3 separate regions of the Homo sapiens genome follow, and all the other regions are linked to region 2. Evidence: fine-mapped expression QTL. A gene starts in region 2. Each other region holds a variant in brackets. All regions are shown on one strand. Distances are from middle to middle. Region 1 overlaps BSN (bassoon presynaptic cytomatrix protein). Region 2 holds the start of INKA1 (inka box actin regulator 1). Region 3 overlaps IP6K1 (inositol hexakisphosphate kinase 1).

Region 1 (6,110 bases), 140 kb before region 2:
AAGGAGGCTGCAGGAGCCCCAGCTCCTGCCCCACTAGCTGGCCAGAAGCCACCAGCAGATGCTGCTCCTGGGGGTGGCAGTGGGGCCCTCAGCCGGCCAGGGTTCGAGAAAGAGGAAGCATCACAGGAGGAGAGGCAGCGGAAGCAACAGGAGCAGCTGCTCCAGCTAGAGCGGGAGCGGGTGGAGTTGGAGAAGCTGCGACAACTTCGGCTGCAAGAGGAGCTAGAGCGGGAACGTGTGGAGCTGCAGAGGCACCGTGAGGAGGAGCAGCTGCTGGTGCAGCGGGAGTTGCAGGAGCTGCAGACCATCAAGCACCATGTGCTGCAGCAGCAGCAAGAGGAACGCCAGGCTCAATTTGCACTGCAGCGGGAACAGCTAGCGCAGCAGCGTCTGCAGCTGGAGCAGATCCAGCAGCTGCAGCAGCAGCTGCAGCAGCAGCTAGAGGAGCAGAAGCAGCGGCAGAAGGCTCCCTTTCCTGCAGCCTGTGAGGCACCTGGCCGAGGGCCTCCCCTAGCGGCTGCTGAGTTGGCCCAGAATGGCCAGTATTGGCCCCCCCTTACACATGCAGCCTTCATTGCCATGGCAGGGCCTGAAGGACTTGGGCAGCCTCGTGAGCCTGTGCTGCACCGGGGTCTCCCCAGCTCTGCCTCAGACATGTCACTGCAAACGGAGGAGCAGTGGGAGGCCAGCCGTAGTGGCATCAAGAAGCGGCACTCCATGCCACGCCTGCGGGATGCCTGTGAGCTAGAGTCTGGGACTGAGCCCTGTGTGGTCAGGAGGATTGCCGACAGCAGCGTGCAGACAGACGATGAGGATGGGGAGAGCCGCTACCTCTTGAGTCGGCGACGCCGGGCACGGCGGAGTGCTGACTGCAGTGTGCAGACGGACGACGAAGACAGTGCTGAGTGGGAGCAGCCAGTGCGCCGCCGCAGGTCTCGTCTTCCCCGCCACTCAGACTCAGGCTCTGACAGCAAGCACGATGCCACTGCCTCATCATCCAGTGCTGCTGCCACTGTGAGGGCCATGAGCAGCGTGGGCATCCAGACCATCAGTGACTGCTCCGTGCAGACGGAGCCTGACCAGCTGCCCAGGGTCTCTCCAGCCATCCACATCACAGCTGCCACCGATCCCAAGGTGGAGATCGTCAGGTACATATCGGCGCCAGAGAAGACTGGGCGTGGGGAGAGCCTGGCCTGCCAGACGGAGCCAGATGGGCAGGCCCAGGGTGTAGCCGGGCCGCAGCTTGTAGGGCCAACTGCCATCAGCCCCTACCTGCCTGGCATCCAGATCGTCACCCCAGGGCCTCTGGGCAGATTTGAAAAAAAGAAGCCAGATCCCCTGGAGATTGGGTACCAGGCCCACCTGCCTCCGGAGTCTCTCTCACAGCTTGTGAGCCGCCAGCCTCCCAAGTCCCCTCAGGTCCTCTACTCACCAGTCTCACCCCTGTCCCCTCACCGGCTCCTGGACACCTCCTTTGCTTCCAGTGAGAGGCTGAACAAAGCTCACGTGAGTCCCCAGAAGCACTTCACGGCTGACAGCGCTCTCCGCCAGCAGACGCTGCCTCGCCCCATGAAGACCCTGCAGCGGTCCCTGTCTGACCCTAAGCCCCTCAGCCCCACCGCCGAAGAGTCTGCCAAAGAGAGATTCTCCCTCTACCAGCACCAGGGGGGACTGGGTAGCCAGGTATGGGAACAGGGGCTGTTCCAGGGTGGGACAGGGGTCTCTGCCTAGCCCGAGGGGCCCCCACAGGGAGGGGCTTCTTCTGGGGTGGGAGTAGAGGCATCTCTGGCCCCAGAGGCCCAGGGGAAAGAGTCAATGAGCAGATGCTCCCTGGTGCACATCTGAAAGAGCCTGCAGCCCGGCAGACAGCCTGGCAGATACAGACACACACATGGGCCCCCACAGCCTTCCAGCCACATACCCTACTAGAAGCTTCAGCCTCCTCCCAGCACTGTCCCTTCACCACCCACACCTGGTCCAGCCCCTGCTACCTCCCCCTTTAGGCCTCTTCAGCTCTCACTTCTAGTCTGGACCCCTTCCACTCCAAACTTAATCTATGGGTGTTTCCTAAGAAAATCAGTCATATGAACCTGGCGCGGCTGCTCTCGTCCTCTCAGTCCTGGCCTGGTTTCCATTGCCACACAGGAAGCCCACACCCCTATGGCCTAGCACTAGAGGCCCATCCCAGCGGGCTGCAGTGTGCTCTCTGCCCCAGGGTGTTCTCTGCCCCTACCTGGCCCTCGGTAAATCTGTTTACACATCTGTCTGCTCCCCTAGATAGGGGATTCAGAAGCATAAGCTTACCCTTGGTTGTGGCTTTATTTGCCAGTGATGGATGGGGACTGTGAGAAGTGGCTTGGCTGTGGGCTGCAGCCAAAGTGAGAATAGAGGGTTGTGAGGGCCTAATGCCAACAACTGAGTGCCAGGCTGAGGAGGATGGGCTTTTCCTAAAGACCCTGGAAGCCTCTGGAGGTTTTAGGCATGTGAGATGGGACAAAGCAGATGTTTTGGAAAGTTTCCTGGGCAGAATGTGGGAGGGTGGGCTGAAGGAAGAGACCTGGCAGAGGAGGCAGGAGCCAGAGGCATCGTAAGGTAGATTTGCCCATTTTCAGGGTGTGACACAGAGACGAGAAAAGTGGAGCCTTAGAATGGGGTTTGTGGAGGTGATAATCTTGGGTAGTGAAGTCTTGGTGTATGCAGGCCATATAGGGGTGTGGGTGGGATCAGGACTCTAGGCTGGCAGGGAGGGCAGGTCAGAGAGGCAGGGTGGTCCTGGCTGCAGGCACAGAGGTCCCATGGGCTGGCCATGTGAGACCAGGCCATGATAGGCACTCATGATGCGTGGCCAAAATAAGAAAAGAGACAACAGAGTGAGGGGTTCAAAAGGCTAAATTTATTCCATAAAAGGCCCACCCTGAAATTTTGAGGGCACACTATAATTTTTATTATGACATATGGTGGATGTAGGTGGGAGGTTTTTAGGTAGTTACTTGGCAAGGTAAAAAGTAAGAATCCTATAGGAGTCACTTCCCAGTATATATTGGAATTTGGGTGGTCCATGAAACCCAAGGGCATGGGGCATTCTGGGAAGGCTAGGAGCGAGAGAAAAAGGGAGAAGACAGAGTGAACTACCAGGCAATGTGGACCTTCAGGCAATGCAGAGTGTCTAGGGTAGGCAAGGAGGACCCCATGGTAGGCACTGTTAGGGAACCTTGACCAGGAAGCCATGCTGCTGGAGGTAGGGCTGGATAGGACTTACGGGTGCACTGGTGGCTCCAGAGAACAGCAGGTTGACCGAGGGACATGGAGGGAGCTGGGGACCAGGCCAAGAGCACAGCCCAGAGGGTTTGGCAGAGGGCAGTGCAGGGCACTAGAGGAAGAGGGTGGGCAGGCAGCTGAGGAGCCTTCCACTTTAGAGAGGACTAGGGCAGGATGCAGAATGACTCAGAGCCTGCCACGATTGGCATACAATCTACATGTGTCCCTTCCCATGATCCTCTAGGGAGCCTGGC[G/A]GGCCCAGGACCCTCTCCACTCCATGCCTCCTGTTCATACTCCACTGATCTCAACCCCTGTCAGCTGCTAGGCCCCAAACCCAGAGCCACAGCTGTACTCTTCTTACCTCAATGTGAGGCAGAGGGTGGCAGGCCCATTGGAGATGTGCAGGGGTTCTCAAAGCCATGTGCTGGGCCAGTACAGGACATTGGCATGAAGGGAATCTGCCCGTACCCTCCTGCTTCCCAAAGCTCTGGGAAAGAGAAGGGCTGTAAAATAATCACAGATCTTCCCTCTATGGCAAAGAAACCAAGGCCTATGGGTGGGCAGGGTAGGCCTCCAGGCTGCCTGGTAAATCAGGGCACCAGCAAGATGGAACCCAGCTCCTTCCCCAGCCCAGGCCTGGGTTCTGCCACCCCACACCCCATCAAGTCACCACACCTTGGGTCTCAGTGCTGCCCACCCTTCCCTCTGTCTCAGGTGTCGGCGTTGCCACCCAACAGCCTGGTCCGCAAGGTGAAGCGGACACTGCCCAGCCCCCCTCCAGAGGAGGCTCACCTTCCCCTGGCTGGCCAGGCCTCCCCACAGCTGTATGCAGCCAGCCTGCTGCAGCGAGGGCTGACGGGGCCCACCACTGTCCCTGCTACCAAGGCCAGCCTGCTCCGGGAGCTGGACCGGGACCTGCGGCTGGTGGAGCATGAGTCCACCAAACTGCGCAAGAAGCAGGCAGAGCTGGATGAGGAGGAGAAGGAGATTGACGCCAAGCTCAAGTACCTGGAGTTGGGTATCACACAACGCAAAGAGTCTTTGGCCAAAGACCGGGGTGGCCGTGACTACCCACCCTTGCGTGGTCTTGGCGAGCATCGTGACTACCTATCGGACAGTGAGCTCAACCAGCTGCGGCTCCAGGGCTGCACCACTCCCGCTGGCCAGTTTGTGGACTTCCCTGCCACTGCCGCTGCTCCTGCCACCCCCTCTGGTCCCACTGCCTTCCAGCAGCCCCGCTTCCAGCCTCCAGCCCCACAGTATTCTGCAGGCAGTGGTGGGCCAACTCAGAACGGATTCCCAGCCCACCAGGCCCCCACCTACCCTGGCCCCAGCACGTACCCAGCTCCTGCCTTTCCTCCTGGTGCCAGTTACCCAGCTGAGCCTGGCCTGCCAAACCAGCAGGCTTTCCGCCCCACAGGCCACTATGCAGGCCAAACACCCATGCCAACCACACAGAGCACCCTTTTTCCAGTCCCCGCTGATAGCCGTGCCCCACTGCAGAAGCCACGCCAGACATCGCTAGCCGACTTGGAGCAGAAGGTGCCCACCAACTATGAGGTGATCGCCAGCCCCGTTGTGCCCATGTCTTCAGCCCCATCTGAAACCAGCTACAGTGGCCCAGCAGTGAGCAGCGGCTATGAGCAGGGCAAGGTCCCTGAGGTGCCCCGGGCTGGTGACCGTGGCAGTGTGAGCCAGAGCCCAGCCCCCACCTACCCCTCTGACTCACACTATACCAGTCTGGAGCAGAACGTTCCTCGAAACTACGTAATGATTGATGACATCAGTGAACTGACCAAGGACAGCACCTCTACTGCTCCTGATAGCCAACGGCTGGAGCCCCTGGGGCCAGGCAGCAGTGGGCGTCCAGGGAAGGAGCCTGGAGAACCAGGTGTCCTTGACGGGCCCACACTGCCCTGCTGCTATGCCAGAGGAGAAGAGGAATCTGAGGAGGACTCATACGATCCCCGCGGGAAGGGTGGCCACCTCCGGAGCATGGAGAGCAATGGTCGACCAGCCAGTACCCACTACTATGGTGACAGTGACTACAGGCATGGGGCTCGAGTAGAGAAGTATGGTCCAGGGCCCATGGGGCCCAAGCATCCCTCCAAGAGCCTGGCTCCAGCTGCCATCTCCTCAAAGCGCAGCAAGCACCGGAAGCAGGGCATGGAGCAAAAGATATCCAAGTTCTCGCCTATTGAAGAGGCCAAAGACGTAGAGTCAGACCTGGCGTCCTACCCCCCACCTGCAGTCAGCAGCAGCCTGGTCTCTCGGGGCAGGAAGTTCCAGGATGAAATCACCTATGGGCTCAAGAAGAACGTGTATGAGCAGCAAAAATACTATGGGATGTCCAGCCGGGACGCAGTGGAGGACGACCGCATTTATGGCGGGAGCAGCCGGTCCCGGGCACCTTCTGCATACAGTGGGGAGAAGCTGTCCAGCCACGACTTCAGTGGCTGGGGCAAGGGGTACGAAAGGGAACGGGAGGCTGTGGAGCGACTTCAAAAAGCGGGCCCCAAGCCCTCATCCCTAAGTATGGCCCACAGCCGGGTACGACCCCCCATGCGGAGCCAGGCCTCTGAAGAGGAGAGCCCCGTCAGTCCTTTGGGGAGGCCCCGCCCTGCCGGAGGGCCCCTCCCTCCCGGCGGGGATACCTGCCCACAGTTCTGCTCCAGCCACTCCATGCCTGATGTCCAGGAACATGTCAAGGACGGACCTCGGGCCCACGCATATAAGCGTGAGGAGGGCTACATCCTGGATGATTCCCATTGCGTGGTTTCCGACAGCGAAGGTAATGGCAGCCAGGGGTGATTTCTGCGGATACTCAGCAGCTGGGGGGCCTGCCTACCTGT
Region 2 (6,110 bases):
CTGAGGATGTTCTATATCTGGGTGGCAGCTGCACAAGTGTCTACAGATTTTAACATTTACTGGGCTGTAACTTTGAGATCTGTCTATTTATTGTATTTATATGTCAGTTTTTTTAAGTTTTCTGGCCAGGCACGGTGGCTTATGCCTGTATGGGAGGCTGAGGCAGGAGGATCGTTTGAGATCAGGAGTTCGAGACCAGCCTGGACAACATGGTGAAACCCTGTCTCTACAAAAAAAAAAAAAAAAAAAATTAGCTGAGTGTGGTGGCACATGCCTGTAGTCCCAGTTACTTGAGAGGCTGAGATAGGAGGGTCACTTGAGCCCCAGAGATGGAGGCTGCAGTGAGCCAAGATCATGCCACTGCACTCCAGCCTGGGTGACAGAGTGAGGCCCTGTCTCAAAAAAAAAAACAAAAACGGTTGTCTTTATTTGCCATCTCCAGTTCTTCAGTCCTCACTCTCTTCTCCACACACTCTAATCAGGCTTGTCCCTCTCTACACAAAACTGCCCTTGTCAGGGTTCCCAGTGACCTATGCACTGCCGAATCCAGTGGTTTGTTCTTCACCCTCACTGCCTAGGCAGCATTCAATGCTTGCTCCCCTTGGGTCCTGAGTCCCCACATTCTCAGATTTCTCCTGGCTGTTCCTGCTCAGCTTCTTTGATAGCTCTGCTTCATATCTCCCCTACCTCCACCTCATGGAATGTCCCAGGGCACAGTCCCGATTGCTGTCTCCCTCTGACTACACTGATTTCCTCCCACCCCACCTTATCCAGGCCTATGGCCTTACATACCATCCATTCACTCACTATGCCTCCCAGATCCAAGGCTCCAGTGCTGATCTCTCTCCTGAAGTCCAGAGTCATACACCTAGCAGCTGACTCTGCAACTCCTCTTGGATGTCTAACAGGCATCTCAAGGGTTACGTGTCCATAAATGATCATTGGATTTTCCTCTCCAAACCCACTCTTCTCCAGTCTTTCCCAGATCAGTTTATGGCAATTTCATCCAACCAGCTGTTAATGCCAGAAATGTAGGAGTCATGCTTGATGCCTCTTTTCCTGCCCACATCCATGCATCAGCAAGACTTGATTTTAGTTCCAAAACATACCCCAAAGTGACCCCCTTCAGTGCACCTGCCCTGCCCAGGCCTAGGCCCTCCCCTTCGTTGCCTGGATGAGGGCAGGGACTTCCACTCTTATTGCAGAATCCTTTTCTGAAAGCAGCTGGGATTATCTAAACAAGGGCTAGCCCAGGTCATTCCTGCTCAAAGGCCCCCATTGCTCCTCATCACACCAAGAACAAAACCCACATTCTGCTCTAAGGCCGTTAGAGCCTGGTTTTGCTGACCTTTTCCCTCCTGCCACCACCACCAATCACAGACACCTGGGCCTTCTTTATGTTTGGCCCTGTCCAGCTCCTGTCCGTCGGGGTCTCTTCCCTGGCTGCTCCTTCTGCCTAGAATGTTCTTCTTCTCCTTCTTCTCCTTCTCCTTCTTCTCCTTCTCCTCCTCCTGCTTCTTCTTCCTTTCTTTTTTTTTTGAGACGGAGTCTCACTCTGTCGCCCAGGCTGGAGTGCAGTGGCGCGATCTCCGCTCACTGCAAGCTCCGCCTCCCGGGTTCACGCCATTCTCCTGCCTCAGCCTCAGGAGTAGCTGGGACTACAGGCGCCCGCCACCACGCCCGGCTAATTTTTTTTGTATTTTTAGTAGAGACGGGGTTTCACCATGTTAGCCAGGATGGTCTCGATCTCCTGACCTCGTGATCCGCCCGCCTCGGCCTCCCAAACTGCTGGGATTACAGGCGTGAGCCACCGCGCCCGGCCAGAATGCCCCTCTTCTTGATTGCATCTTGATGTCACCTCCTGTGAGACTGACTTTCCCCAAGCTAGCCCACGGCCCTCATTCCCTGGTATTTTCCTGTTGCTGGTATGTCCAGTCTGTCTGCAGCTACACTACCCTTGAGCCTAGCCTGTGTTGATAGAGCAGCCTCAGCACCGACCCTCAGTCTGCACCTGGTACCGGCAAAGGGAATGCCGACGGTCGCGCGTCGCCGCTGGACTCGCGACTAGCCAAGCACTCCCCACTAGAGGGCAGTCCCGTCTAGCTCGGTTGGGACGCGGCTGAGGCCCCGCCGGTGCGCTGCCACAAAGTCCCGCCCTCTCTTGAGTCCTCAGACGGGCTGAACCCCACTTCCATCCCGTTCAGGGAGTGCCAAGGCCAGCCTCACGAATGGGTCCCGTGGGTCAGGCCCCGAGGGTCCACAACCTCTCTGGGTCCGACCATCCGGGGTGCTCTGCCTATGTGCGGACGCAGCACGGCGCCCCGTGAGAGGGACCGCTATTTCACCATTGAACAAACGGGGAGGATGAGGCCCCCGCACGGAGGCGACCTGTCCTGCGTCACGCAGCAAACGCAGGGTCCACTCAACAGTCTGGGGGCTCGGGGGGTCCCCGTACCGGCCCCGTCCGGCTTCCAGTTATGACCCCGCCCTTCCCACCCAGAACCGCGGCGGAGTCGGGAGGGACGCCGGGCTTTAGCCCCGCCCCCTTTGGCCGCGGGGCCGGGGCGGGGCGCGGCTGCCAGATGTCGGGGCGGCGGCGGCGGGAGCTACGGAGAGCGAGGAGTCGCGCAGGCAGGCGGAGGCTGAGGGCGCCGCTGGCCGGCCCTCCCAGCCCTCTCCGCGCGGCTCCGCCGGGGTTCCAAGAGGAGCTAGTAGGTTCGGTGGGGGCCCTGGCATGGACATGCACAGCGCTCGGCTTGACAGCTTCCTTAGCCAGCTCCGCTGGGAACTGGTGAGGCTCGGGAGCGGGTGTGGTTAGTGAGGACGCGTGCGGGATGCCAGGCTGCCGCCCGGCCGGAACAACAGACGGGTGCGGGGTGGCTCCAGCGTGCCGGTCCGAGGCGGGGTGGGGGCGGCGTGGCGCATATGGCTCAGATGGCCCGCGTCGGGTTTCGGACGGTTGGGAACTGAGCTGAGCATCAGATAACAGCATCCAGCTGGCCGTGCTGCTGGAACGGCGCGGGAGGAGAGAGTGGAAGGGGGACTTCTTTGGGGGCGGGGCATGGGGCGGCAAGGGACTAACGAGGTGCTGGCGCTGCTGTGAACGCCCCCTACTTCAGGCTGGCCTATGCCTCCCTTCTCTACCCCTCACCTAGCAAGCGCTCTTTCTGTGAAAGACGCTTTGGGCTTTGGGAGCTGAATCCCCCAATAGGCACGGGATGCCCCTCCAGTCCTGGGCAGGACCTACTTCCCCGTTCAGGCCCGCAACCCTGCCTGCCTGCCCGCCCGCCCTGGTGGCGGGTGCCGACTTGCCCGGCCCTGCATGCTGCAGCCTGCCAGACTGCCACCAGGTCGGTGGATGAGAACCACACCAGCTTCGAGTGCCAGCACCCCTATGCCTGCCCTGTGCTCACTAACACCCTGCTGCCCAGGCCAGCAGGCCTATCTAACCTTCCTGGACCCTCTGTTCTCTGGGCTGGCCTGGTGACAAGTGATACCTCTCCGACTTCTGCCCTCTCTTCCCCTCAGTTGTGTGGTCGGGACACAGGCTCACCCTCAATGCCTGGTCCCCTGCAGCCAACCTCCCAAACTGGCCCAGATGTGCAGCCCAGCCACCAGCTTAGGGCCTCGGGTGCCTTGGAAGAGGACTCAGTCTGCTGTGTGGAGGAGGAGGAAGAGGAGGAGGAGGAAGCAGTGGTGACAGAAGACAGGGATGCAGCCTTGGGAGGCCCCAGGGAGCATGCCCTGGACTGGGACTCTGGCTTCTCGGAGGTGTCAGGCAGCACATGGCGAGAGGAAGAACTGCCTGTATCCCAGCGCCCAGCACCCTCAGCACAGCCCCTTCGTAGGCAGTGCCTCTCAGTCAGTGGCCTCCCCATGCCCAGCAGGGCCCCTGTAGCCAGTGTACCACCTGTCCACCATCCACGGCCCAAGTCCACCCCAGACGCCTGCCTGGAGCACTGGCAGGGACTGGAAGCAGAGGACTGGACAGCAGCCCTACTGAACAGGGGTCGCAGTCGCCAGCCCCTGGTACTAGGGGACAATTGCTTTGCTGACTTGGTGCACAACTGGATGGAGCTGCCTGAGACAGGGAGTGAAGGGGGTGACGGAGGTGGGCACCGTGCCCGTGCTCGGCCCCCTCAGTTCCTGCTTGGCCTCTCTGAGCAGCTTCGGCGCCGGCTGGCCAGGGCTCGGCGGACAGCTATGGCAGGAAAGCGGCTGTCATGCCCACCTCGCCCAGAACCTGAACTGCCTGCGGATGTCTCACGCTTTGCAGCTCTCATGAGCTGTCGTAGCCGCCAGCCCATCATCTGCAATGATGTCAGCTACCTCTGACCCTGCCCTCCAGCCTGGGACAATAAAAGCCTTTTTTCTAGACTGTCCTGGCTCCATACCCCTGAGGCACTAAGAGGCAGCCCCAGCCCTGTGAGGCACTGCCCAGGGAGACAAATCTTCTGAAGAGCTTTTTTTCTCTGTGTGAAGGTCCCTGTCATGCCCATGTCACACCCGTGTGCATTAGTGCACTGTTTTCTATCGTCCATCCTCTCTGCAATGCCTTCCTTTAACAAGCATTTATTGAGTGCCTACTGTGGGCTTACAATGCAGGGCTTGGGATCCGGGGCTCCATTGAGCTAGGTGACAGGGTGGCTGCCTTGTCACAGCTCATAGTGCAGAGGTGGGAAGGCAGTGTCCTCGTCGTCACCCTCACAGCTCAGCTCTAGCACCAACACCCGCTGCCCAGGAGCAGGTGCCTGGCCTGTCAGCTGCTGAACCAGTTCTGTCACCCTGGTAGGGGTGGGTTTAGGGGAGATTGGAGAGGTGAGCCATGGCAAGCAGAAGGCAGCCTGGCATGGACTAGAGAGGGTGCTGGCAGGCCGTCAGGAGCCCAAGCCAGGAGCAGGAGCTGCTCAAGACAGGAAACATCTGAAACTATTTTAGGAGCAGCTGATGAGGCAAGCAGGAGGCAGGAAGCTATGGGTCCCTTGGGAGTGGGCTGTGAAAGGGGGGCTGTGCAGCATGTGGGGAGCCCATGGGGCTGGCCAAATAGGCAGCTCCTGAAGACTCCTCCTCAGGCTCTCGGCCCTCACCCCACCTCCAGCCTGTTTGCTGGCTCCATTTGGGGAAAGAATGCTTGGGAAGGTGTGAGGGGCCCAGAATGGGGCTGGGAAGACAAAAGGCAGTGTGGTCCCTAGCCCCAGCCTCCAGGGACTGGTGGGGCCTGTCTAAAGCCCCAAGTGGGCTCACCTGAGGGGCAGGTGCTGGGCCTGCTTTTCAGGTGACCATCCGGCCGCATAGAGCAGGGCTGAGCCGTGCAGCAGGATCCTCACCCTCAACCCGTGCTGCTCCTAGAGGAGAAAGGTCAGACACCAGCTGGGCCGGGCTGGGCTGAGCCTGGGGGTTGGGGTAGCAACAGGGCACACCTGAAGATGAGCCAGCAGCGACTCCAGGGTCCTCTCAGGCTGCCCAGCTGGTACCTTCAGACGGTCCCAAGAGGTCCACTTCAGGTGATGGAACTGGGATGAGGTAGAGGAGGAGTCAGAGACTTCTTACCTCCCCCCAACCCCCATCCCAGTTACCAGCAGCCTTTCCTAGGGGAAGAGCTGGACTAGCAGGAAACAGGAGCCAGGGGGTGGGGGGTGGGGGGGAGGTGGGATCTGGGCCCAGAGTCTCAGCCCCCTCCCCGTCCAGGCCGGGGCCAGCACAGGAAATGGGGCTATGGGGCCCGCACAGGGAAACAGACGATCCATCACATGGGCCAGTTGTGAGAGTGGGGGATGAGGGGGTGGTGCTTCCTGAGGAAACCCAGAGCAGGGCCCCTGCAGCCTCTGATAAAGCTGCTTGTTCCTCAAAGACAAGGCTGGGAGCTGGGGGGCACATCCTGTCCCCCAATCTTGTATGTACTGCCAGTGCCTTGGGCTACTCATTGGGACACAGGGGCAAAGGGCACAGTGACCACCAGGGCCCCACTGTCCCAGAGACCCCAGCAGGGATACAATGCATAGAGGCTTCCTCCTCCTGTCCCTTCCTTCCTTCCAAGAGTCTTGGGGTTCTGGGACCTAGAGCTAAGGACAGAAGGATGGCTGGCAGGTATCTAGAGACCAGGACAGGGG
Region 3 (6,110 bases), 43 kb before region 2:
AGCTCAGGAGTTTGAGACCAGCCTGGGCAACATGGCAAAATACTGTCTCTACAAAAAAAAAATTAGCCAGGCTTGGTGGCTCATGCCTATAGTCCCAGCTACTTGAGGGGCTGAGACAGGAGGATTGCTTGAGCCTGGAAGGCGGAGGTTGCAGTGAGCCAAGATTGCGCCACTACACTCCAGCCTGGGTAACAAAGTGAGTCCCTGTCTCAAAAATAAAAATAAAAAATAAAAAAACTGCTCTCTCTCCATTTCAGAACACAAATAAAAGCTCTTGTCACTCACGCTAATTTCAATTATCTATAACACTGGTTTTATACATGGAGTTCATCTTAGGTACAAATCTACTACCTTATATTAGCAATATTCACATGTGTCCTATTATTAAAAAAGGGAAAACATGGCAATAAAATTTCATACATCTAGGAAAGGTGAAGCCAAAGCTCTGGTCACAGCATTGACCTTTTTAGATTATCTGGGGGCTTTATTTAGGACCCCCTATCAAAAATGGTTACTAGTGGCCAGGCGCAGTGGCTTACGCCTGCAATCCCAGCACTTTGGGAGGCCGAGGCAGGTGGATCACGAGGTCAGGAGATCAAGACCATCCTGGCTAATACAGTGAAACCCCGTCTCTACTAAAAGTACAAAAAAATTAGCCAGGCATGGTGGCGGGCGCCTGTAGTCAGTCCCAGCTACTCGACAGGCTGAAGCAGGAGAATCGCTTGAGCCTGGGAGGCGGAGGTTGCAGTGAGCTGAGATCGCACCACTACACTCCAGCCTGGGGTGACAGAACAAGACTCCATCTCAAAAAAAAAAAAAAAAAAAAAAGGTTACTAGCTTTAAACAAGAAAACTCTCCAGAGTAAGGAATTATACAACTATGAAATAGCTGCTGGCCATCCACTTCTCCATCAGCCAGGAAGAACACTGGTAATGAGGCTGACATACCTATCAAGGACAGTAACTACCACAGCACGTCTGCAGTTTCATATTGGTGGAGCATTCGTTGTATCCCTGGGAGCCGTAGTTCTCTGTAAATTTGCTGTGGCTGAACCAAGAAAGAAGGCATACCCAGATTTCTACAGAAATTATGACTTCATGAAAGAATTTTAGATGAGAAAAGCTAGTATCTTTCAGAGTGCAAAGTAATTTTGGAATATAAGGAGTTTCTTTGGCCAGGCGTAATGGCTCATGCCTGTAATCCCAACACTTTGGGAGGTGAGGCAGGCAGATCACCTGAGGTCAGGAGTTTGAGATCAGTCTGACCAACATGGTGAAACCTCATCTCTACTAAAAATACAAATATAGCAGGTGTGGTGGCGCATGTCTGTAATCCCAGCTACTCTGGGAGGCTGAGACAGGAGAATCGCTTGAACCCAGGAGGCGGAGGTTACAGTGAGCCAAGATCCAGCCTGGATGACAGAGCGAGACTCTGTCTCAAAAAAAAAAAATACCCAACAGTTTCTTTGGGTTGAATTTCCTATTAGTTTTGTCACTAACCTGTGTTCCTGAACTATGAAACATGAATATGTGGGCTAGCAAATAGTTTATCTTGATAAATAAACAATTAAAAAAAAAATACCTTCTATCTTTCTATGGTATCTCAATGACACCACAAAACTGTTAGGACTCCAAAGCAGTTTTAAATCACTGAATTCTGAGAGGCACTAAAAATCAGATATGGCTAAAATCTGGAGGACTCTTCCTTTGGGGGTGAAATCATTTAAATGCCTTGATGCTTATACTACTCTGAAGATTATCTGAAAATATAGTCAAAGATCAAATTCTTCAGACACAGACACAGATGTATTCAGCTGCAGTTAGAGACTAAGGCAAAACGTCCACCACAAAATACAACTCCAATGAGTTTTATTCTTTTGAGATAATGTGCTGTTACTCCCACATATGGCCAGGGACCAGCTCCAGTTCTCTCCTCCAAGGACCAAGTTCCTAGCATCCTGTGTTCCTATTGGACCTCCATCTCAAGGGCCAAACAGCATATTTCTTATATAGTTAGACATTTAGAAAACAGTGTAAGGAGATTTCAGGGCACAAACTCTACAGAAACTCCCTCTTTCAGACACCACACATCCTGGAGGCAACATAATGACCATCTATTTGAACATCCATCATGTAGATAAAGATTTTATTAGAGTCTTAGACTAGGTGGACAAAACAACAACAACAACAACAAAAAACGACTTTATTAAAGGTTACCCAGAAGCAGATCAGCAACATGGAAATTAGTAGACTATGTGAAGTAAATACGTGAAGAAAACCTATAACAAGGGGTGAACAACCAGCATAATGCCTCACAAAATGCCATCAAGTTTGACTGCTTCAAGCAGATTAGATTCCAGCTGTCTTCCAACCCTCTAGTGAAATACCAGAATTATTGTTTTTTCTTTCTTTCGAGACAGGGTCTCACTCTGTCACCCAGGATGGAATGCAGTGGCACGATCACGGGTTACTACAACTTGAATTCTTGGGCTCAGGCGATCCTTCCCACCTCAGCTTCCTGAGTGGCTGGGACTACAGGCCACCCAGCTATTTTCCCTTCCTTTTTTTTGTAGAGATGAGGTCTCACTTTATTGCCCACGCTGGTCTCCATCTCCCAGCTTCAAGTGATCCTCCTGCCTTGGCCTCCCAAAGTGCTGCAATTATAGGCCTGAACCACCATGCCCAGCCTAATTATTACTGTTAAGTACTTTAAATATTAGAAAAGCACTTCTGTCCACCTCATAGACAACCCATAGTTTCAGAGAGATGGGGACTAACCTTCACCTACGCAAACCCATCAACAACTTCCCAACTTAGAAAAGCAGACAGGTGGAGGCTGGACGCAGTGGCTCAAGCCTGTAATTCCAACACTTTGGGAGGCCGAGGTGGGCAGATCACTTGAGGTCAGGAGTTCAAGAACAGTCTGGCCAACACGGTGAAACCCCGTCTTTACTAAAAATACAAAAATTAGTCGGGCATGGTGGCAGGCACCTGTAATCCCAGCTACTCGTGAGGCTGAGGCAGGAGAATCACTTGAACCCGGGAGGCAGAGGTTGCAGTGAGCCGAGATAGTGCCACTGCACTCCAGCCTGGGCAACAGAGTGAGACTTCGTCTCAAAAAAAAAAAAAAAAAAAAAAGTGAAAAGCAAAAAGCGGAGAGGTGGTTCCAAAGATACATCATTCCTTAAGAGCAGTTTCCAAATTTCTCCAAATTTCTCCACTCCCTCAACTTCCTTTCCTGACTCTCATGTGACATCAGGAATTAAACAGCCTGAACATGCAGAGCTCTCAGGATTCTGGGAGTCAGAAACCATGTGAAAAAATCAATGCCACAATTAACAAATTATGTACCCTTCAATGTGCCAATTCACCTATTTTCCCTGTCAACAGATTTGAGATTACTTATCTACTTCTCAGAGTGAGGTAATATATGAAAAAACACTTTTCAAATATATGCTATACTGATTCAGCTAAAGCAATGCTAACGTTTTAAAGTCTAAAAGTATTGCAAAAAACCTGTAAAACTGGCCGGACGTGGTGGCTCACACCTGTAATCCCAGCACTTTGGGAGGCCGAGGC[G/A]AATGGATCACGAGGTCAAGAGATCGAGACCATCCTGGCCAACACGGTGAAACCCTGTCTCTACTAAAAATACAAAAAATTAGCTGGGCATGGTGGTGGGCGCCTGTAGTCCCAGCTACTCGGGAGGCCGAGGCAGGAGAATCACTTGAACCCGGGAGGTGGAGGGTGCAGTGAGCGGAGATCGTGCCACTGCACTCCAGCCTGGCGACAGAGTGAAACTCCATCTCCAAAAGAAAAAACCTATAAAGTTAATGACCTGGCCGGGCGTGGTGGCTCACTCCTGTAATCCCAGCACTTTGGGAGGCCGAGGCGGGCGGATCACGAGGTCAGGAGATCAAGACCATGGTGAAACCCCATCTCTACTAAAAATACAAAAAATTAGCCGGGCGCAATGGCAGGCACCTGTAGTCCCAGCTACTTGAGAGGCTGAGGCAGGAGAATGGCGTGAACCCGGGAGGCGGAGCTTGCAGTGAGCCAAGATCGTGCCACTGCACTCCAGCCTGGGCAACAGCGCGAGACTCCGTCTCAAAAAAAAAAAAAAAAAAAATTAATAACCTAAGGTTCTCATTAACAACTTAGAAAAAAGGCCAGGTGTGATGGCTTGCACCTGTAAACCCAACATTTCAGGAGACCAAGGCAGGAGGATGACTTGAGGCCAGGAGTTCAAGAGCACCCTGGTCAACAGAGAAAGACTCTGTCTCTACAGAAAAAATGAAAATTAGGCAGGCATGGTGGTACATGCAGTCCCAGTTTGGAGGCTGAGGCACCGAGATTACTTAAGACCAGGAGTTTGAGGTTACAGTAAGCCATGATTGCACCATTGCACTCCAGCCTGGGTGACAGAGTGAAACCCTGTCTCTCTCTCTTTCATTTATTTTTTCTGGTGAGATGGGGTCTCACTGTTGCCCATGCTGAAGTGGCCTGGCACGATCTTGGCTCACTGTAACCTCTGCTTACTGGGCTCAAACGATCCTCCCAGCTCAGCCCTGAGAGTAACTAAAACTACAGGTATGCACCACCATGCCCAGATAATTTTTGTATTTTTTGTAAAGACAGGATTTCATCATGTGGCCCAGACTGGTCTCAAACTCCTGTACTCAAGTGATTCACCCACCTCAGCCTCCCAAAGTGCTGGGATTACAGGCAAGAGCCACAAGCATCTTTAAGAAAGAACAGGCCGGGTGTGGTGGCTCACACCTGCAATCCCGGTACTTTGGGAGGCTGAGGCAGGCGGACCATGAGGTCAGGAGACTGAGACCAACCTGGCCAACATGGTGAAACCCCGTCTCTACTAAAAATACAAAAATTAGCTGGCAAGGTGGCGGGCGCCTGTAATCATAGCTACTTGCCCTACTTGGGAGGTTGAGGCAGAAGAATCACTTGAACCCGGGAGGCAGAGGTTACAGTGAGCCAGGATCGTGCCACTGCACTCAAACCTGGGCAACAGAGCGAGACTCTGTCTCAAAATAATAATAATAATAATAATAATAATCTGAACACTCCTATATCTATTAAGAAAACTGAGTCTGCGATCAAAAATCTTTCCACGAAGAAAACTCCAGACTAGGTTTCACTAGTGAATTCTATCAAACTTTTAAGAAAGAAATATCAATCTTACATAATTTTTTTTCAGAAAACAGAAAGAGAGAGAAAGAGAGTAGTTCCCAACTTGTTTTACGAGGTCAATTATTGCTTTTTTTTTTTCAGACATAATCTTACTCTGTGACCCAGGCTGGAGTGCATGGCACAATCCCAGCTCATGGCAACCTCTGTCTCCCAGGTTCAAGTGATTCTCCTGCCTCAGCCTCCTGAGTAGCTGGGATTATAGGAGCGCACAACCACGCCCAGCTAATTTGTGTATTTTTAGTAGAGACGGGGTTTCACCACGTTGGCCAGGCTGGTCTCAAACTCCTGACCTCAAGTGATCCACCTGCCTCAAGTGATCCACCTGCCTCAGCCTCTCAAAGTGCTGGGATTATAGGCGTGAGCCACCATGCCTGGCCAAGGTCAATTATTTCTTTTTTTTTTTTTTTTTGAGACGGAGTCTCGCTCTGTCACCCAGGCTGAAGTGTAGTGGCGCAATCTCGGCTCACTGCAAGCTCCGCCTCCCGGGTTCACACCATTCTCCTGCCTAAGCCTCCCCAGCAGCTGGGACTACAGGCGCCCGCCACACACCCGGCTAATTTTTTTTGTATTTTTTAGTAGAGACGGGGTTTCGCCGTGTTAGCCAGGATGGTCTCGATCTCCTGACCTCGTGATCCACCCGCCTCGGGCTCCCAAAGTGCTGGGATTACAGGTATGAGCCACCGCGCCCGGCCAAGGTCAATTATTTCTAATAACAAAACCTAAAAAAGAACCTTAACAAAATAAATAAGAAAAAAGATTTTAGAACAATGTCCTTCATGAATACAGATACAAAAATCTTCAAAAATTTTTAGCAAAACAATTCCAATGATATATAGAAAGAATCCCTCATGACAAAGTGGGAAATGCAAGGTTGATTAAACATCTAAAGAATCAATCAGTATTACT

The links. PIP is the estimated chance that this variant, and not a neighbour inherited with it, causes the effect. A credible set is the group of variants that fine-mapping cannot tell apart.
Region 1: its variant is the best candidate, but not a certain one, in a credible set for the expression of INKA1 in skeletal muscle (GTEx, PIP 0.75).
Region 3: its variant is the best candidate, but not a certain one, in a credible set for the expression of INKA1 in whole blood (TOPMed, PIP 0.54).

What each region holds. Positions count from the first base shown.
Region 1 is chr3:49,656,514-49,662,623 of GRCh38, forward strand. BSN (bassoon presynaptic cytomatrix protein) reads left to right here. Exons shown (of 12, transcript NM_003458.4): 5 at 1-1,683; 6 at 3,973-6,049. Among named protein-coding and RNA genes, the nearest start is that of APEH, 15 kb to the right of the region's middle. The variant G/A (reference allele first, on the strand shown) is at 3,513.
Region 2 is chr3:49,800,653-49,806,762 of GRCh38, forward strand. It overlaps INKA1 (inka box actin regulator 1), which reads left to right and starts at 2,609. Exons shown (of 2, transcript NM_203370.2): 1 at 2,609-2,791; 2 at 3,529-4,378. The coding sequence starts at 2,741. The coding sequence ends at 4,335. It overlaps UBA7 (ubiquitin like modifier activating enzyme 7), which reads right to left. Exons shown (of 24, transcript NM_003335.3): 22 at 5,421-5,513; 23 at 5,245-5,345; 24 at 4,557-4,785. The coding sequence ends at 4,656. MIR5193 (microRNA 5193) reads right to left here and starts at 5,593; the gene lies at 5,485-5,593. It also overlaps a transcript of CDHR4 not described here. RefSeq lists silencers at 2,006-2,055, 2,446-2,885 and enhancers at 5,564-5,858, 5,845-6,110.
Region 3 is chr3:49,757,509-49,763,618 of GRCh38, forward strand. All of the region lies in intron 1 of IP6K1 (inositol hexakisphosphate kinase 1), which reads right to left. It also overlaps the pseudogene COX6CP14. Among named protein-coding and RNA genes, the nearest start is that of IP6K1, 26 kb to the right of the region's middle. The variant G/A (reference allele first, on the strand shown) is at 3,579.